Linked DNA regions of Homo sapiens: regions 1, 3 and 4 are each linked to region 2. The links come from fine-mapping of genetic effects on gene expression. A gene starts in region 2. Each other region holds a variant in brackets. All regions are shown on one strand. Distances are from middle to middle. Region 1 overlaps LRFN2 (leucine rich repeat and fibronectin type III domain containing 2). Region 2 holds the start of LRFN2 (leucine rich repeat and fibronectin type III domain containing 2). Region 3 overlaps LRFN2 (leucine rich repeat and fibronectin type III domain containing 2). Region 4 overlaps LRFN2 (leucine rich repeat and fibronectin type III domain containing 2).

Region 1 (5,147 bases), 170 kb before region 2:
ACCCAGGAATCTTCAAAGCCTCCCTGTTCCACTCAGACCTTTTTCCTAGCAACAATCAAAGCTTGAGGGAGGAGAGCAAAGCAGCCTTGGGAAGCAGCCCTTGGCACTGGCTCACACGCGGTGGCATTTTGACGGGTGGTAAAAATATCTGGTGTTCAGTGCCGGCTGCCGCTGCTGCCACCATCTCAGCTTCCAAGATCCTGTCTCCATGCTCAGTGCCTCGGCAGCCTCCCGACCTGTCCACGCACACCTTGGGAGTCAGAGCACAGGTCACTGAGCCCCTGACCAAGGGCCACATTCATGTATGACAACTGCCACCTTCATTGCCAGGGCCAGGCACCAGCCAAAAATGCACTTATGAGCTACTAGAGTAGGTGATTTATTGTCAGAAATGCCACAGCACACACCTAATGAGCTAATTAAGCAAAAATATAAATAATTACTCCCTATCAGAGTACAAGGTTGTGGGGTAGAGGGGGTGGGGAATGCTGACAGAGGAGCTGGGTCAGTGATGGCGTGGGATGCTCTGCTCTGCAGGGGGAGATCCAAAACTCCTCTCCACTCACGGCTATGAGTTGGGCCTCAGTGAGGTTCCCAGGCTGGGCAGACATAGGCCCAAGGATTCTGCCAGAAAAATCATGACAACATGCTGCTTTGTTCCCTACCTAAGTACTTCCTGCTCACTCACAGGCGCACACCCTAATCTCCTCCTGCCCCAAGTGGGAGAGAAAGAAGGGGTCCTTCTCCCATTTTATGGATGTGAACATTCAGGAGCAACAGGGTCTCAAGATACAGCTAAAACTCTGCAACCATCCCGTAACTGGTCTCCCTGATGCTATCCCTGCCTGCTGCGGTATATTCTCCAACCAGCAGCAGAATCTTCTTTCTTAATCACATCATGCCAGTCTCCTACTTTCAAATCTCCCCAGCCCCAGCCCCAGAGGTTTCCGTCTCATTCAAGATAAAATCCGAGGCCTCATCATGGCCAGCAAGGGCCTATGTAATCTAGCCCTGTCCAGTCTTCTCACTCATTCACTGCCACTCTTCCTCCAGAGGCACTGGAGTCCTTGCCACTTCTCCAACAGGATGAATGCATCCCTCCCCAGGGCCTCTGTATGTGCTGTTTCACCTGCCTGACTCTTTCACTCCATTCAGGTCTCCACTCCAACATCACTCCTTACAGAGGCGATTCCTAACCACCCATATAAAACTGTAGCCCTCTGGTCTCGGTCTCGTTACACTGCTTATTTTTCTTCCTCGTGTACATTTTTGAACTTTTCATCTCTCCCCCCAGTAAGAATGTAAGCTCCTTGATATTCAAGGCCACCCATACTTTTCCCTGTTCCCACCTCTGCCTTCCTATCACTTCCCTAGGCAAGAGCTGTGCCTGTCTTTTCCCAATCCTGAGGTCTTGACCAGACAATAAATATTTATTGACTGAATAAATGAATATCTGGTTCCAAATACAGAGTTTTCCTCACCCCAGGTCATTCTTCCCCTCAGAACTAGACCCTGGCTTCTCATCAGCAACAGGAGGAAGCCCAAAGTCAGGACAGCACTTGTTCCAAGCTCAAGCTCCCCTGCCTCCAAGCTGTGAGACCTTGCAAGTCACGCCACCTCCCTATGGCTCAGAGTCCTCATCTGTCAAGTGGCAATCATGGATCACACCTCATAGGGTTAACATGAGTCCAAATAAGAAAACATGCAGAACAGCTTTAGAACAGTACCTGGAGTGCAGTAAGGGCTCAGAAACATAGCTACTTTGTGTGACATTCAAGGCTATCCATACTCTGCCCTCTTCCAACCTCTGCATTCCTATCCTTTTCCTAGACCAGTGATTCTCAAAGTAAAGTCCCAAGACCAGCAGCATCAGCATCCCGGAGAGAATGTATTAGAAGTGCAAATTCTCAGGCTCCACTCGGTACCTACTGAATTACAAACTCAAGGGGCAGGGTCTTGCACTTGTGTGTTCACAAGCCTGCCAGGTGATTCTCATGCTTGCTCAGGTTTGAGAACCACTGCCCTCTAAGGGGGCTTTCTGCCAGGAAAGTCAAGTGTCGCAAATTATTGGTCCTGTTTCTTTACCAGCCTGTGATACAGCAGCACCTCCACAGCCTTTCATGGATTGATGCTGAGCGCAGTTCATTCCCTGCACCTTGCCTTTGGGCTTGGCCATGTAACTTGCTGTGGCTAGCGGGA[T/C]TTTGCAGGTGTGATACCAACAGAAGCTTGACGTTCATTTCTGCAGGTGGGCTTGCCTTCCTGCATTTCTGCTATCACCATGAGAAGAACATACCTGGAGAACCACTACCCCTCTCCTGGGGCTCCAGGATGAGATACACAGAGAAGATTGAAATCAGAACTGGAGCCTGAAGCCAAGTGCAGTCCTGCCCAGCCCAGCCCAGGCCAGACCAGTTCAACTCCAGCCAACCTGCAGAGCTATGACTAAGGAAATTCAATATTCTTGGATGTAAGCCACCTAGAGTTTGAGGTTCTTTGTTATGCAACATGGTTGTGGCAGCAGCTGATGAATACACCAGGGGCCCTCACAGGCCTTTGACTGGGCCTGATCATTCCTGCCTCTGTCTCTGTCTTCATTGGTTTCACCCAAAACAGCTACCACCCCCTCACCCTGACCCCGCACAGCCTCCTTCCTTCCAAATCCCACCTTAACCCCAGGACACAGCTTACACTCCACTCTACCTGCTCTCATAGCCCCCCAGAATATGTTCCTCTCAAGCCAGGCAGTTAGCTCATGGAAAAGCCCAAGTGGACTAATTTCACCAAGCAATTCATTTACGTTTTAACCTTTTGCGGGGCTAATTGCTAAACTGAGAAGCTCCTTTACTTAGTACCATTACTGACTAATGACCTAGTGCAAAGGTTTGGTGTTTAACAGATCTCTTCCATGCTTCATTTCCTGCCGCTCACCTCCTTTACAATGCAATCGGAGTTCATTCGCATATCTGGATCAGCACTCTTAACCACAGCATCAGCCCCACAGCCGCAGAGCACAGCGGAGCCCACCTTTGGAGCCCACCCCTGCTGGAAATAGCTCTCTTTTGTAAAGAGTTAACGAGCTCGTTCATCCACAGTGCTTGGCTGCATGGCCCTGCATTCACCCCGGGGTGGCCCATCGCGTCCTGTGGTTTTGTGCCATTCTTCCTGCCCCACCTCTGAGACCCTGAAGATGGTGGACATTAATTTGACTTCTTGTTGTGATCCCTTCTGTCACCCACAGGGTGCCCACTCCCATCACACACATTCATGCCAGACCATAGGCCTAATTGTCAAGAAGTAAGCTTCCCTCTTTGCTTTGCTCTGTGTCTCCAGAGATGAGAAAAGAACACTCACAGACAGGCAGGAAAGCAGCCCCATCAGCTTCCCCCCCAGGCTGGCCTCAGCCACAAACTGGCTACTGGTTGCTGGGACTGTGTGGGCAGGTGCCAAGAAATGCTCACAGCAGCGATGCTTTCGCCCATGCAGCTCTGTGGCCATCATACGCCTCCCCAACATCCATTCCCCACTTCTAACTTCCCGGCAGAACGTTATTTTATCTAATGGGGAGCAACATGCGTGAACAGACAATCGCCTTCCTCAGCCTCCAATGTGCACTGGAGGAAATACAATAAGCTAGCAGCAAAAGTCAGTGGGTGGGATTCTTTAAAGTGGTTGGTGCCTGTCTTAGTTTGGGTTTCCCAGATGCAGACCCTGAGACAAGGATTTGAATACAAGTAGTTTATTTGGGAGGTGGGCTCAGGAAACTGTGGTAAGGAAGTGTGGAAGGAAGTCAGCACAGGGCATTTTGCTAAGCAAGTTACCACTGTGGGCAATGAGGCCCACCCCTAATGGGAGCCCCTGGGAGTGAGCATAGACCATGTATCTGCCTTTCTCCAAGGCTGAGGAAGCTGGGGTATTAATCCTCCAAACTCTGTTAAAGGCTGAGGGCTGATCCCAGGGTTGGCGACTCCTCTGTGGATAGGCCACACCAGAGAAAGTCCCCAGGTAGAGAATGTGAGCAAGAGCAAGAGCAGTGAGCCACACATTAAGAATAATGCAATTGACCTGCTTCAGTCCCTGACTCCATGGAGCTCCCATACCAGCTCTGAACTACCTCCTTCTGGAATGCTTTGACAGAATTGTGAACTCACAAAAGTATCTGATAGGTCTCAATCCATTTAGAAAGTTTATTTTGCCAAGGTTAAGGACATGCCCATGATGCAGCCTCAGGGGGTCCTGGAGACACGTGCCCAAGGTAGTCTGGGTGCAGCTTGCTTTTATACATTTGAGGGAGACCTAATACATCAATCAATACATGTAAGATGTACATCAGTTCAAACTGGAAAGGCAAGAGGTGGGTCGCTTTGAGGTAATAGGTAGATTTAAAGATGTTCTGATTGGCAATTGGCTGAGTTATTATCAATAAAAAGGAGTGTCTGGGTAACAATAAAGAGTAGTGGAGACCAAGGTTTTATCATGCAGATGAAGCCTCCAGGTAGCAGGATTCAGAGAAAATAGATTGTAAATGTTTCTTATCAGACTTAAAGAGTCTGTTCTGTCAGTAATTCCAAAAGAGAGGAGGGTATAATGAGGCACATGTGGCTCCTCATTCCTATCATGGCCAAGTTTTTTCAGGTTAACTTTGGAATGCTCTTGACTGAATGGAGGGGTTCATTCAATTGGTTGGTGGGCCTTAGAATTTTATTTTTGGTTTTCAGAATGACGGAAATAACCCCCAAATTTGGAAAAGTCAGATTTCTGCTACTAGAAGCACTTCACACTTTATGAAGATGTTCTTCTTTCACGCTTTGTCATCTCTTTCCAATGTTACAACAACCTGGTGAGTTATCATTATCTCCATTTAGCAGGTGAGGAGCCTGAGGTTCAGACAAGTAAAGAGAAGGGAGATCTCAAGAGCCCATGTCTGGAGCCCCTGATTCCATCTTTCTTATAGTAATCACTCAGACTCAGCTGAGGGGTAAAAAAAATGGCTCCAGTGAGCTGAAATGCACATGGTGTTTTGTTTCCAAAGTGTTTCCACATATGTTATCTCTTTGGAGATAACCCCATAGAGAAAAGATTTTTTCTTCCAATGTTAGATGAAGCAAATCTCAAAGAGATGAGTAGTGCATGGTAGAGCTGGGATTGAA
Region 2 (5,147 bases):
CAAACCCTCCTGGCAGCTCCCTGGACAGGGGGAAGTTGGCTGTACTATCCTCCATGTCTCTGAAGAACTCTCTCTCCCTTCCAACCCTCCCTGTTTCCACTGAAGACTCTCCCAGATCTGAAAAGCGGTTTGGGGACTGCCAGGAAAACATCAGGTCATAATACATCTATTGGGTACATGCTATTATTTTATTTTACCAGGTCAAAACACAAAGACTCACATTGTTAACCAAGATATGGCAGAGCCAGAATTTGAACCCAGGCCACCCAAGTTGAGGTTTCATTCCATTATATGACAACTCTATCCCTTCAATAAGTTGGACCCTAAAACTCCACCCCTACCCAAAGGAAAATCACAAAATACTCAAATTGTTGTTGCTCTTGTTCAGAGTCCAATTCCACTTGGCCATCCCAGGTTGTTTATTGCTATATGTCTCTGCTTCCAGTCTAGCAGCCTCCCCCATCAGACTGTGAACTCCCTAGATGCTAATATCTACCTTAGGAAAGGGGAGTTTCTGAAAACAATTAATTCCAATTTCACTTCTCCACTGTCCCTGGGTAGACAGACCCCACGCCAGGAGCTTATAAGCCTCTATACATCCACCCTGCAAAAAAGGAGAGCAGAACCTGCTCAACCCCACAGGCTGAAGAGGCTTGGCAAACTGGCACTTGGAGGCCAGAATCCCTGTTTTTTTTTTTTCCTTTGGAGCTGAAGCAAAGATAAGAAGAGCAATTCCTCCTTCAGTCAAAGAAGGACTCAGTTGGCCAGAAGGCTGCCTGGTTTCCCCGGTGGCCCCACCCACTCTGACTGCATTTTCTTCCCATCTATCTTGCTTCTCCTCCTCAGCCTCACCTCCTGGAAGCTCCCAGCTCACCCTCTCTCAGGCCAGACTCCCCAGCTTCTCACGTTTCTGGGCCTGAGCAAAGAACTGGCACTTCACAGAAGAAGGAGCCCTGAACCCCAGCCTCCAGCCCACAGCAGGCAGGCACCCAGTTCTTCTAGACAGGAGATGGAACTGGGAGCCAACCTTCCAGAGGCTGAAACAGAAATGCCAAGTTTGCTGTTTGCATCCCCAGGATGAGGGCAGGAAGATAAATAATTACATTCCTGGTCAGGAATTAGACCAGAAACTCTAAATTGAGGGCTGGGCAGGGGGCCTGAGCAGAAGCATGTGAGGAGGCCAGAGGGAGATGCAACTCTGCACTCCCAGCCAGAGTCAGAAGGGAAAGATGACATTCCAGCATCAGCAGAAGGGCCCAGGCAGCTGGCATGGTCGGCGGAGGATGACGGCTCCAAGTGCAGGCCTTTTGGAGCTTCTGAATCCTCCCTACAGGACTCTGACCCCCTTCAGCCTCTGATGTACCCCACAAGGAAATGACACTACCCTCAGGGCTCTGCTGTGTGTGGCTATATAAAGCTCCTGCCAGAGGGCAGCGACCAGACCAGGGCACAACCCCAAGACCTAGTTCCCTTGCTCCCCACCTTGAGTTCCAAATCGGCCCCCACACAAGAATAACAGCCCACATAGAACCTCTAGCCCTGGCCCCTGGGAACTTCACAGCCCAGGGAATGGCAGTTTCCTCCCTAGCTTTGCTCCTCCCCAGCAGCAGGGGGTCAAATTCCTGAAGCTTCCCCCTCCCCCAGTACTAGAAGGCCAATCAGGCCATGGAGGCCACAGCTGCCACCTCCCTGAAACATACACATGCGTACACACACACACGCGTACACACACACACACACACACACACTCCATTGTGGCCAGGGGAGGGGGTCATCATCTATAGCCATGCCTGTAACTCCAACTCAAGAGTGCAGGCTCTGACATGTTCCCTGTCCCTGCAGGTGTCTGTCCGTCTGCAGCTGTCTGCTGTCGCCGGGTGCATTTGGCAACAGTCTGGCTCAGTCCCTCTGCGGTCTCCACTCAGGCTCTCTTCTCCCTCCTGCTCTGGTTTTCAGAGGCTCTATCTCCCTAGAACTCTCTGTCTCTGTCCTTTGTACCGGGCTGATGGGAAGACGAGTAGGACACCTCCCTCAGAAGGTCTGTGCAAAGTAAGGCACTGTCCACCTCGGAACGGTCTACTGCTCTCCCTCCTCCCTGCCCAGGCCAACCTTAGAACCAGGGCAGGGCTGGGTGGGAGACAGAGACCTAGGAACCCAGGCATGGCTAATGCCACTTTCCATATTGCTTCATCATGCCATTCTGATGCCCCAAGCTGCACACACACACAATCCCCCTGATCTGCTTTCTGCCTGAGGCCAGCATAGGGTCCCTGAACCTGCCCTACCTGCCCCCACAAACTGCAACCATGCCTTCCTTCCTCCCATCCGCTCTGCATCAACCCTTCCGCACTTGGCTTTACCCCACCCCACCCAGTCCACAGAGCTCAGGGAGTCCCCGGCGCCCCCACCTAGCCCCCAGCAATGGCTCTAGCCAGGCCTTGCATGTGCGGAGATGCAACAGAGTGGTCTGGCGGCAAAGTTCTCCTGCTGTTTTCAACGGTTCCATCCACCCGTGGCTCCCCGTCTCTCCATCCGGCTCTCCAGTCTCACATGGACCCGGCTCTCCCCGCTCCCCGCCAGAGTTTCACCCCCACTGTAGGAAATAAAGACTAAAGAAAGGAAAGGAAATCTCTCGCGATAAGGATGGGCGAAAAGAGAAGGGGGTGTCCGCATGAGCACCTAGGATGCGGGGAGTCTTCAAGAGAAAAAGAAAGGGATGCAAAGTTCCCGGTTCCCTCGGGTGCGTTCAGCCCCGCGCCGAGCTCCCGCGGACACCCGGGATCGCAAAGACGCAGCGCCGGCGACCACTCACCTGGGCGAGGCAGCATCTACCCCCGGCTGGGTGGCACCGAGGCCGGCTCCGCGGGGCGCCCGGGCTCCCCGGCTCGGCCACGCATCCTTCCCCGCCCGAGACAGACTCGAGCTAAACCCTCCGGCGGCTCCGGCGAATGCAGGCAGATGGTGGCCTCGGACGTCCACGCGGGGAAAGCCCTGAGCCGCTTATTCAGTTATATCCATGGCATTTAGCAAGAAGAAGGGGGGAAAAGCACAACTTGTTCTCTTCTCTTCCAGATTAAAGAAAAATAATAATAATAATCCCTCCCTAGGAGGATGCCGGTAGGATTTTCCGGATCGAAGAACCCCAGGCATTCCCAGGAACCTCGGGCATCTTGGAATGTGGGGTGTCTTCAAGTTCAGACGAGCCTGCCGGGTTGTGTATGTGTGAGTGTATGTGTGTCTCAGCGAGAGGGAGCCAGGCACTCACACCCACACGCACACACAAACACACTCCCCCGTACTCCCCGCATGCACACTGCCCCCCACGCGCGCGCGCATACGCGCGTACCCGGTTTCTCTCTCCGCTCCACACACACACACACACACACACGCACACACACACACACACGGATCACACGCTCCAATCTGGGAGGGAGTCGGGCGGGCTGCGGAGACAGCGCAGGGCCAGCAGTGGAGAAAACCCAGCGGCCAGAGGCGCCCAGGAACCCGGCGGCCGTGCGCACCGTCCCCGCCGAGCTCTCCGGCGCGGCAGCCCCCAGTGGCGAACCGCGGAGCTGCAGGAGCCGAAGGCAGCCTCTGCGCCCGCTGCCCTGCCCGCTGCCGAGCGCACCCGCTTCCGAGACGACCAACACCGCCGCGGAAACCAGAGGGATTCACGGTCCTGGCAGGGGTGGCGCGGGGACGCACGGTGGGGCGGGAGTGGGCTGGGGCCGCAGTCGCGGAGGGAGGTGGGCAGGCCGCGAGCCCCGGAACCGGGAGGGCGGTCTCCGCGGTCCAGCGGCACGGGCAGCCCCTGCGGAAGGCGAGCCGGGCGGCCAGGGCTGCACCTCTGCAGCTGGCGACGGCGCTGCCACCTCACGTGCCTAGCGCGCCCTGCAGCCGTCAGCCCGCCGCCTGCTGGAGGAAAACCCGACCGCGCCGGCCCTAGGCTGGGAGTGGGGGCTGGGGCGATCGCGCCCACCCAGTCCTGGGGCCCAGTTCAGATTCTCGAATCCTGGTAAGGGACCTATGAATAACGAGCGCCCCGTGCACGCACACACACGCACTTTGACTTTTCATGATTATTACAAGAATCAGTGAAGGGTGCAGTGGCGCCAAGTGTTTGCACAGCATCTTTACAACTCTTCACTTGTTTGATCTTCTCAGCAACCCTCATTTGATGTATAAGGAAACTGAGGCCCAAAAGAGTAAAGTGACTTGTCCAAGGCATGTGGTAGGTAGCGGAGACCCTACTCAAAGCAGACTGTGAGCTCACAGTCAGAACACCCAGGTCTGGCCAAGGTCTCGTCTTTGGTTATCCTCTCGGTTCACTATAAACAACTAGTTACCAGAAAGGTAGGACCGTCCTCTGCCTTACTGGACTCCCCAAGAGGCATTTCCTTCCTTCTAAAGGAAATGAAATTTTGAGATTCCTGTTGGTACTCCAGCTGGTAAATCCAGGGGCAGGAAGAATGTCAATGTTGCAGTCCTTCTCTTCTCTCCTGGTGGCTAACACATCCCGTGCACCTGTCCCGGTTACCCACAGGGAGGCACATGTTGCATGTGGATGTGTCTCTGCAGCCCAGGATTGGCTCGGCTGGATACATCTGTAACATACGACCCTGTGTCCTCTCTACACACATGCATAACTGCAGAAGCCGAGGCAGCTGGTCCTCATGTGTGCACCCTCCACATGTGCACCCCGGGAAACTGCCAAACTGGCATGCTGCATATCCTTGAAGACAAGCCTCTCCCTGCAGGAATTCTGGAAAGCCTGGTGGGGGAGGGGCATGGCCAAGATGAAACTCAAGGTATATGGGGTGGGCCTTGGAGAGAAGGGATCTAACTCAGGAGCAGGGAGTGAGGGATAGAGGTAGGGAAGAGTCATGAGAAGGAAAGTAATGAGGAAGGAAGAGGTGAGTAAAAGGAGGTGTGGAGTAGAAACTGGGGAGGGCAAGTAGGGAAGAGGAAGGGGAAGGGAAGAAGGAGGGGAGAACAGCAGGGAAACTGCCTTACTCTTTGCTTACCTGAGGGCTTGCCTACTATTGGCGGGAGCTCCCAGGAAGAAAGGCTTAGGAAGAACCACAGCCTGGGCTCAAGCCTTTGAATTCTCCCAAGGGTTGGGGGCAGTGGGCTAGGTTATCTCCCCT
Region 3 (5,147 bases), 200 kb before region 2:
GGACCAGAAGATCAATTATCCCAACAATAATAGGAAAATAACCAGGGAAGAGCCTGTAATCTGGGCCTACTTCCTCAGAATAGGTGAGCAAAAGAAAGATGTCACACATTATACAAAATGAGAACATGGAGAAAGATCACTGAACCTGTCAGAAGTTCCTAAATAGCTATGATAGGGGTCACAGGATAGCCTTAGAGGTAAAAGCTAGCTTCTCTCTTTGGTCTGGGGAAAACATGCCAATTTCTCTCTGATAGAAGCTTCAGGGAAGGGAAACCACGAGCCTTGTAAACATTGACTGACTGTGAGGTACAGAACCTTAATTGAGATGATGGAAGCTACAACCTTTGGTTTAAGGGCTGAAAGCACAAATAGATATTTTTAAACTGTGAAAGTGACAGGGTTCCTTTTAGATATTGGGGCAGTAACCTGGATGGGCCTGATTCTATTATGCAAAGGTAGAAACCTCAGGTATTTACCTGTGAGAAGCCTCCTTGTCACAACAAATTCTTCTTGCTGCCAACTGCATCACATGGAAAGGCTAGGTTTGATAATCTAGGTGGGATCTTTAAAACGGTGTATGCAGGTTTTGAGTGCTGCCTGCCAATAGTCTCTTCTTTTGAATAAGTGTGTCTATTTTTCTGGCAGCAGTTTGCAGAAATCCCACTGGTTGTAAGAACAGAGAAAGCCCCACCCAGCTTGCTGAAGCCCTGAGACCTTCACTGCAGGCACACTGAGAACAGAAGATACAGAAGTACTCAGGCTGTACTTATGAAAAATCAATACTCACAGACTTTTAAAGAAAAGTTACTTTGCATTTGGGAAGGGGGAATCCTGAGACAGTGACTGTTGCCTAGCCTGGCTGACAATTATATCCCTTAACAAAAAAGTGTTCCTGAGGTCTTTTCGAATTTCAACACTGTAATGGTGAAAAAATAGAAAATTCTCTTGAGGGAAACCTGAGGGATATGTCATTATCGAGAATGTGGGGAAAGGGGTCAAACTGTTTTTCCAGAAAGCTTAATAATCAACTAGGCAAATATTGTATCAGCTATCTCACCTCTGCAAAAGATTGAAGAGCTGGAGGCTTCTGTATATCAGGAAAGAGGATCTGGGTAGGTATCTTACCTGATAGGGACAGGGGTATTAAAATAGAAAGAGGCGAGAAGATGGGTTTTGTCTCTGAAGCAAGCTGTTGTCAGGCTTTTTATCTTAGGGGGAAGAAGTTATAGGCTCCTGGGGCAGAGCAGCCCAGACAAGACTGGAGATGGAAGGCTCATTCAACAAGCAACCTCCTAGAGGTCACCAAGAGGGAAGAAGGGGTGACCACAGGGTGGGCTGGGCAGTGCAGTCTGAATCCTGAGGAATTTTCCTGGCCAGGGGAGGGAACGTGTTTCAAGGCAAGGAGGGCCAGAAAGGCCGGTGTACGGTCAGAAGGAACTGCTTCACCAAGGTGCTCTTGCCTGGAATTAACACTCTGAGGTTTCTCGCAGATCTTAGGCTAGTCAAGGGTTTCCTGATTAGGCTACAAATGTGAATCATTCAGTCAGTATAAAATACAATCTATAACAGGTTGACGGGAAGAAGAAAGGATGGGAAGGCAGTGTGATGTCATGGGAAGAACTAAGGCTTTGCAGCCAGACTTAACTGTGTGACCTTGGGCAAGTTACTTAACCCCTCTGAGCTTCAGTCCCTTCATTTATAATATGGGCATAATACTATCTACCTAAAAAGGTTTTAGTGATGATTCAGTGAGAAACATATTTGAAGCAACAAGCACAGTAACTGGAAGCTGTAGGTACTCAATAATTGTCAGTTTCCTTCCTCTTCTAAAAGCTGTGCTTTCAAGTCAATTGTATGTCTAGAGTCGCACTGTCTGGTACAGTGGCCAGTACTAGCCACATATGGCTCTCAAGTACTTTAAAGAGGGCTAGTCTGAATTGATATGTGTCATACATGTAAAATACTTTAAAGAGGGCTCATCTGAATTGATATATGCCATACATGTAAAATACAAATCAGATTTCTAAAACTTTGTACCAAAAAATACCATAAAATAACTTACTAATAATTTGAGTGATTACATGTTACAATAATATTTTGGATATATTGAGTTAAAATATAAGATTAAAATTAATTCCACCTGTTTCTTTATATTTGATTCAACATGGCTACTGGAAAATTTAAAATTACAATGCGGCTTACATTTTATTCTATTGGACAGTGCTGATCTAGATACTAGAAAAGACAAGGTTGGGAAGCTGTGTTCCAGAAGCATGTTTGTTTCTATACCTTGAGTTTGGGTTTTGGTTTGTTCTCCCATGGTTTCCCAGTAAAAGACCCTTTTGAAAAAAATACCATCCAGGGCTCAACCAAAACGGGTAGAAGATACCTACATGCCCCTAGTAGTCAGGTGTTGTGGTGACCACAGTCCAGGAAAAAGTAGGTAGGGCTGGTATATCAGAGAATGGAGATGTCAGGTAGGACAGTCAGGACAGCTGGGGATGGACTGTTCTTTTCTTAGCCTGAAGCTTCTCTTCAGATTTCTCTACCTTTCTTTACTCTGGGAAGATGATCCCATTTTCTATTATTTCAGAAGATTCCCCCACCTTATACATGAACTTGGCAAGAAGCAGGCTCCCACCAGGCAGTAACAAACACAGGTGCAAGAGAAAATGCCACTTCAAAGCCATCTTTAGAAAACCCCAGAGTTTCCAGAGAAATGAACAGCAGACATTCACAGACATAAGAAT[GT/G]TTTTTTTTTCCCCCGCCCAAGGAGTGTGGTTAGTGGTTGTTTTTAAAACTGTACATTTTACTGTACATTTTTTTTCTAGCAAAGGAGAAGATTGGCATTTATATTCTGACCACAGGGATGCTGCTTTCCAAAACTCCAAGTCAGAAACATGACAAACACAAGAGCAAGTACATATCATGTCACGATAGAACTCGGAACCGCTGATGAGAATAGACAGTCAGTTGGTTCCTTCCACTGTTCACCACCTTCCCTCTGTGTGTCTGAATCCAAAGGCCAAAAAGAAAGCTGGTGTTTGAGACCACTTCCACAATGGCTATAGTTTGAAAGGATGAATGAGAAAGATGAGGAGGGAGAAAAGAGAAGAGGAAAAAACAGGAAGGGAAAAGAGAAAGGGTGGAAGAGATTTCCTTTCAAGTTGCCCAATTCTGTGGGTGCTTCTGTGACCATAGAAAGGATGTGCTTCAGCCCTGGGACTGGCCTCGAAAATTATTATAACTTGAGGTCTCAGGAGGGACTGGCCTGATCTGTTAATGACCTTGTCAGGACCAGAAAGGGACTGGGAAAGGCAGAGAGTAAAAGGAGAAAAAAAAAGAAGGATGAAGAGAAGAGAGGGGAGGGAGGAGAGTGAGGAAGGAGGAAGGCCTGGGATTTGGAGGCTCTGGGACTAGAGCCGAAGGTAATTCTTCATAGACAGTTGCAAATCCCTCCTTGTGTGTTCCAGAGTGGGGTTGGGGGCCAGCAGCTCGGGTCCAGGTCTGAGGCCATTGGAACTTTTTGGTCCAGAATGGTCTTGCCTGTATGCTTTGTAGGCTGCGTGGTTGGCAAGTGGAAGAAGGAAGAACAAAAGAGAGAAAATAGAGGTCTATGGAAGGAGTTGGGAGAGGAAAGAATGAGTTGGAGAGACTGAGGGAGAGGTAGTGAATTGCTGATGAGTAGACATGGGACAGGGATGCCGGGGAAAGTCATTCCAATCTGTCTACAGCAGGTTCTCCGTGGGCACATCTCCTCTTCCCCTTCTCTTGCCACTGTCTGGCAGGGAGGGGTTATCCCTAGATGGAAAGGAGTCTATGCACCCCTCCCATTCCACCCTGTAATTTCCAAGGATGGACCCTCCTCAAGAAACCAAGAGCAGGCATCCCCCCATCCCACCCTGAGCCACTTTCTTAAGGAACAAACATGGGACAGCCTTTGGACACAGAAAAGCCCTAGGCAGAGTGAAGACAGGGTCATGGATCCCAAATACCACTGCCAGGAGGCAGGTGGCCTTGGCTTCTACCCTGACCTGGTCATGAACTCACTGTGTGACCCTCGGCAATTCCTTTATGCTCTCTGGAAGGGAGAGGGAGGGTTAAAGATGGGATGATTGCAAACACCTCCCCAAGCTTCAAAAGCCTATGATTCTAAAAAGATTCAGCTTTCCCCCTCCAAGGCTTCTAGAATTCTCTGTGTCCAGTAAAAAGGAGGGGCACTGCTGTAACCAGCTTGTGCTTCTGGTGTCACTAAGCAAAAAAGCCTAACATCTAGAGTCATGAATAATTAATAGGCCTATAGAACTGGAAAGGGACTGGAGACCTAGTACAATCCCAGTATTTTTGCAAATTGAGAAATTCAGGTCCCAACAGATAAAAGGGTCTTGCCCCAGTTATTCAGCTGGCTATTCATGTGACTGTGGAGCCCAGACACAGAACTTCGGACTCCAAGTCCACTGCTGTTTCTGCCACCCCTGCTGCTTTCCTTAAGAGAAGCCCTCCTGGCCTGCCACATGCTCAAGGGGGACTTTCCATGCCAGCTTCCCAGAAAGAGTGGCAACAAGCCCAAAGCAACTCCAGAAGTTAAGATCCCTTGTGCCCTATAGCATGAAGCCCTCCTCCCTCCCCACACGTAAGAACCCAGGAAATTACCCTTCTGGTTTAAGCTTCTGTGATGGGTGTGGCATGTCATGTTTGAGAAGCAAAGGAAACTAGGTCAGGTATCGGGGGTCAGTCACTCACCCCTTCCAGTGTCGGGTGTGGGGTGGTTGGGAGTAATGAGAGCTCTGAGCAGGGAACCCCACAGTCTTCCCCCAAACAAGTGTGGAAACAGAATAATTCCCTCCTCTTGTCAATTGGCAACAATTACCCACTACCAGGGCTGCTGGGAACACACATTCATATGTACGATTAACTCTCGATTATTCGTGTGAATGAAGAGGAGGAGTCTGGGAAATGGAAAAAAAATAAATTAAGAAATAAAAACAACACTAGACCCATAAGCAATCCAAAGCCGCTTGCTTGTAGGCTACATTTGTGATTAGAAAGGCGGAGTCTCGCCTTTCCAAACACTCAGGGCTCAGTCCGGCATTTGAGCGAGTCCACATTCCCTGAGCACACCCCGGCCGGGTGGTGGGGAGGTGATG
Region 4 (5,147 bases), 180 kb before region 2:
CCTGGCTGTCAGCACCCTCTGCTCACACACTTCCAGGACATGCCAGGCAGTCATCCTAGCTCTGGACAACTCTGAGTGACTCATGGGGGCCGTGGTCTGACAGACTGCGTCTTCCTCCCACCAGCCCAATGCAACCCCACAGCTGCCCAGAACAAGCCTGTTTCTTTCTTTTGGACATGTTGTTGCTTCCCATATTGTGAGGCCACTCTCTCATCCCACCTTGAAGAATTCACATTTCCATTTCCTCCAACCATTTCCTCATAGCACAGTTTCTAGTTTGCTGGCAGGCTGCCCCGTCTGATCATACCTGATCACATGTCAGTTTGTCTTTGGCCCTTCTCTTTGGGGGTTCTCAGTAGTCAGACCCTACATTGCCCCAGTCAGACATCACACTTGTGGACACCACCCCCTCCCTGGAAGTACACTGGATTCTCTAGAAGCCACATCCCACTGGTGGTCACACTGAGCAGACTGTCAATGGAGAGGCCCTGTGCTTTCCCAGGACTGCTGTTAAGCCACATTGCTTAAACAGTGTCCCCACGACTGCAGGCTCAGCCAACCCAGGCAAGCTCTTGAGCCCATGTAAGGCCTGCCTCTCTCTCTCTCATTCTGTGTATGTGTGTGTGTCCTCATTCAGGTCTCCACAGATATAGAAGTCTTCTCTATTTAATTGTATTTAATTGTCCTTAGCTTCCAGCCCCCAGGGACTGGGTTGGCATATCTTAGAGGAAAGAGTGTAGGCTTTGGACTCAGACAGAAATCTCTCTTTGAAGGCTAGTTCTGCCCCCGACCAGATGTGTGACTGTAGACCATGTGACTTTCCTCTCTCTGAACCTCTGTTTCCTCACATGTGAAATGGGAGAGTAATACTAGCCTTCTGTGGTGAGTGTGAGAAATCAAGTACAATAGGAATAAACATGTCTGCTCCCTTCCTGGGTCATCTGGTACCACAATGGCGATGACTACAATGATGCTACTTGTCATTTATCTCCTGGAGGAGCTGAGAAGAGCTTGTTCAACAACAACTCATCACTTGGAGAAAAAATGCAGAAGGTGTCAGATCAATTATACCTTGTTATAAACACAGACGTGTGCAAAGTGAAGATTCCCCACCAGCTGTGCCCAAGTCACGCTAGAACAGCCAGCAGACACCAAGTAAACACCACCTAATGATGAACCTGGTCGGACCATTCACGCCAGTTGGCAGATCCATAATTTCATGGGGGCATCACCCGGAGCAAAGCCAGCACCAGCCTCCTTGAAAATGCTATCGTATGCTCTCTTTGGCAGCATTTCCATTAAAACTGGAACCATGCAGAGGTCAGCATGGCCCCTGCAGAAAGATGACAGCAAATTTGTGAAGCATTTTATATGAAATTCTGGTACATGCTACAACTTGTGTGAATCTTGTGTGATTCCACTTATATAAAAGACCTGGAGTAGTCAAATTCATAGAGACAGAAAGTAGCAGGGTGGTTGCTGGGTGCTGGGGGGAGTGAGGAATGGGGAATTCTTATTTAGTGAGTACAGAGTTTTAGTTTGGGGTGATGAAAAAGTTCTAAAATGGATGGTGACAGTGACTGCACAACAATATGATGTATTTAGTGCCAGTGAACTGTCCACTCAAATGTGGTTAAAATGGTAAATGTTATGTATATTTTACAATAAAAAATGGCAAAAAATATCGCAAAGCCAATTCTACCAGGTGAGCAGGAAGAGGAGAGGTTGTTGGAAATAGATGTGTCACTTCAGGGAGGCTGATGAACATATGGGTGGCAGTCACCCTCGGCAGGGGCTTCTTGGTTCTATTGTCTATGGGCTTGGGTGGTCCTGTCAGATCTGGGGAAGGAGACAGCATTTGGGGAGGGGTAGAAAGAACCCCTGGCCATCTGATGCTATTCTACATGTGCCCCAATGGATGAAGAGTAGAGCAACTCCAGAGCAGAAGTTGGCAGGAATCAAATGCCTGGGAAGAAGTCGCTGAAGATCCAGCATGGTGGTTCACAGCAGCTGGGCCTGGGTTCAAATCCTGCTCTAGCAATGACTAGCTGCGTGACCCTAGGCAGATTACTTACCCTCTGCCTCAGTTAAATAGGAACACTAGTACCTACTGTGTAGGAATATAGTCAGGACTAAATGAGGTAAAGTGTGTTAAATGCTAGGGGTGCCTGGCAATAAATGAAGGAATGGTAAACACTGTATTTTGTTTCAATGCCAATGGTGAAGTCAACAGTAACACTTTGTCTTAGTTTCTTTGTATTGCTTAACAGAATACCACAGAATAATTTATATTTTTAAAAAACAGCAACAAAATTTTCTCACAGAACTGGAGGCTGGAAGCCCAAGATTAAGGTGCCAGCATTTGGTCTGATAAGGGCCTTCTTTCTGTATCCTCACATGGCAGCAGTGGAAGGGCAAGAGAGACAGAGAGCCCCCTCGGTAGCCACAAGCCCTCATGACTTTATCACCCCTTACAGGCTCCACTTCTTCATCCTATCATCCAGGATTAGGTTTTAACCTATGAATCTCAAAGAGGACACAAGCATTCAAACTATTGCACCCTTAATAAAGCAAATCTGGGTAAAATGAAGCCCTCAGTCATTTCATGGAGGGGCATTGGGGCCCCACCTTTTCCTTCAATTATAACCATCTCCCTCTGTCAGATCAGAAGCTGTATCATAAGAAGGAACCTGTATCGACCCCCAGGGTGAATTTGTGCTCTAGTGAAGAAGGTTTACTGACTGTGCCATGCCTGGTGAGTCACTTCCCATGTTTGAGCCTCGCCTTCACAGTTTTCTCACTTGCAAAATGGGTTCGTAACAGCAATCAT[A/G]TGGTGTCTTTGTGAAAATTAAGTACTATGATATTTGTTCAGTACAGAGTATGCTGCTGAGAGTATGTTTATGCAATAAAAAGAAGCCATGATGATGTTTGCATTTGGTATTTGAAGATCAGTTTCAAATGTTGGCCCCACCATCTGCTAGCTGAGCAATCTTGAACAAGGGATTTTGCTTCTCTGAATCTCAGCCTCCTCATCTGTCAAACGGGAATGAGAACACTACCACCTCCCCCAAAGGACCGTCTGGAAAACCTAAGACGCACATCTACTTGGACACAGTATGTAAGTGGTGAAGCATTTATAAATGTGAGGTGTCCATTTTTTATAATGGGGACAGCCAGCACTCGTGCATGAATGAGTGACCGAGAAACTTATTGACACTTCCTTGGGGGCTGTTCCAAGCTGCATGCCTGGAGGCAGACCCCCTGGTGAGAGACTAGCTGGGCATCCGGCTGCTGAGTTGCTGCATCATCCTGCCTGCTGCCTCACCCCACGGAGAGTTGCCCTTTCCACCCAGCAGTCAGGAGGAGCCCACTCAGCACTTCGCTGGGCTGTGTTTCTGCTGATTCTCCCTGGATACCTCTGTCTCTAACAAGCAGTCTGCTCAGGAAGGAATTAATTAAGGGTGGGGAGAGTGACGACCTATAGCAGGAGGTCTCAGGTGGGCAGCTGGGAAGCCCCACTCTGTCCAGCCAAGTGGAAGGTCCTGATGCACTCCCAACCCTGGAGTCAGCAGGAGGGAGGGTGGGGGAGCAGAGCCGTCCCCACCCACCAGCCATCCTCATGTCCAGGCTGGAGGATGAGGCTCTAACTCCCACTCTGTCATGACTTGTTCAGCCTTGAGCAATTCACTTTCCTTCTCTGTGCTTTTAACATTCTAGAATTTCACAAGAACATCACTGGAAGAGGGGTGATGGGAGCACGGGGGAGGCAGGAGGAAGGGGATGGGATATTGGGGTTGTGGAAGTAGGGGCAGCAGCACGTCCCTGACCCCGAAAGCACACAGGAGTTAGCATCAAAGTGACCTGGGCTCAAATCCCATCTCCACAATTTATTGACTATATCTTTACTCCCTTACTTAACTTTCCGTAGCTTTTGTCTTCTTATTTGTAAAAGCAGTTTGCAAACCCAATTTGCAGAGTTATATGAGGATCAGAAGTAATGTACACCAAGCACTGGCATACAATATATACTCAATAAATCATTTATATATATAGTGAATGCTTACATACTTTATTATTGTCTATCTTCTATTTATCTTTCTATCATCTCTTACAGACTAACACCATCCATTCCACCCACCTCGCAGCAGGACCCCTCCTGGTGGCAGAAGATGAGCCGCCTGAGGGCACAGGTAGTTTTAGGGGTTGGGGTCTCTGCCAGATGGGCAGAGGAGCCTTCCTATGGGATTTGTTCATTAGCCAGGAGCTTTAAGGTGGGGCTGGCCTAGCCTAGAGGTGCACCATCCTGATTTTGCCTGTGAATTACTAAAAGCAGCAGTGTAATTATCCTCCTTCCTCTGTCCTGCCCCAAGTCTGGGAGCAGCCAGGGCCTATGGGGACAATGAACACAGAACAGAGCCATTAATTGCACACCAGGGTCCCTGGAGGATGGCCATATGGGCCTGTCATCTTAGTGTGGAAGTAATCATGTAAATAAATCACGTGTGAGTAAATCACAGACTTATCTCATCTGTAATTTTCTGGGAGTCTCTCCAGCACTGTTTATTGAGGTGCATGGGTCTGAAGCCCCAGAAATTGGCTCACTCTCCTCCCTCTCCTGCTCCAGCTGGGGAGAGGCCATTCTGGGTGGCAGATGGGAGTGAGGCTGATGAGGAGTCGTCCCTGCTCTGCTGGGGTACATGCAGGTGCAGTGGAGGGTGAACCCCAAACGGGCACGGTAGGAGTAGGGGGGCTGTGTGAGTGAGTGGCCGTTGGCCAGTGTGTGCGTGTAGGTACGTATGTGAGTGTGACTGTGCGTCCACTGGCCAGCGTGGAAGCAGCCCTGGGCATGTGAGCAGGGAAAAGGATTGACCTGAGGCTGTGAGCACCTGTGAACATGCACAGGTCGGGTGAACACTCGAATCAGCGTCCTTACAAAGGCCACATGGCCCTGTGGGGTCTGGCCCCACTGCCTCTCTGCCCCATCTCGCCCACCCTGCCCTGCACTCTGTGCTTCAGCCACCCTGGCCTCTTCGTTGCTCCTCAGAAACACTCCAGCCATGGAGGCTTTGCCCTGGCTCTTCCTTCTGCCTGGAGGGCCCTTCCCACAGACCTCAGTCCAGCTCCCCTTCAAGTCTTTCCTCAAATCC

Evidence for each region.
Region 1: its variant is fine-mapped to the expression of LRFN2 in whole blood (TOPMed, PIP above 0.99).
Region 3: its variant is fine-mapped to the expression of LRFN2 in whole blood (INTERVAL, PIP above 0.99). The same link has a PIP of 0.9 or more in CD4 T cells.
Region 4: its variant is fine-mapped to the expression of LRFN2 in whole blood (TOPMed, PIP above 0.99). The same link has a PIP of 0.9 or more in blood mononuclear cells.

The regions. Positions count from the first base shown.
Region 1 is chr6:40,417,099-40,422,245 of GRCh38, forward strand. The region is part of intron 2 of LRFN2 (leucine rich repeat and fibronectin type III domain containing 2); the gene reads right to left. Among named protein-coding and RNA genes, the nearest start is that of TDRG1, 41 kb to the left of the region's middle. RefSeq lists enhancers at 1,683-2,319, 2,320-2,955, 2,956-3,591 and a silencer at 2,312-2,606. The variant T/C (reference allele first, on the strand shown) is at 2,200.
Region 2 is chr6:40,584,129-40,589,275 of GRCh38, forward strand. It overlaps LRFN2 (leucine rich repeat and fibronectin type III domain containing 2), which reads right to left and starts at 3,236. Exons shown (of 3, transcript NM_020737.3): 1 at 2,813-3,236. RefSeq lists silencers at 3,409-3,508, 3,599-3,668.
Region 3 is chr6:40,386,636-40,391,782 of GRCh38, forward strand. LRFN2 (leucine rich repeat and fibronectin type III domain containing 2) reads right to left here. Exons shown (of 3, transcript NM_020737.3): 3 at 4,956-5,147. Among named protein-coding and RNA genes, the nearest start is that of TDRG1, 11 kb to the left of the region's middle. The variant GT/G (reference allele first, on the strand shown) is at 2,751.
Region 4 is chr6:40,406,579-40,411,725 of GRCh38, forward strand. The region is part of intron 2 of LRFN2 (leucine rich repeat and fibronectin type III domain containing 2); the gene reads right to left. It also overlaps the pseudogene RNU6-250P. Among named protein-coding and RNA genes, the nearest start is that of TDRG1, 31 kb to the left of the region's middle. RefSeq lists an enhancer at 2,930-3,431. The variant A/G (reference allele first, on the strand shown) is at 2,831.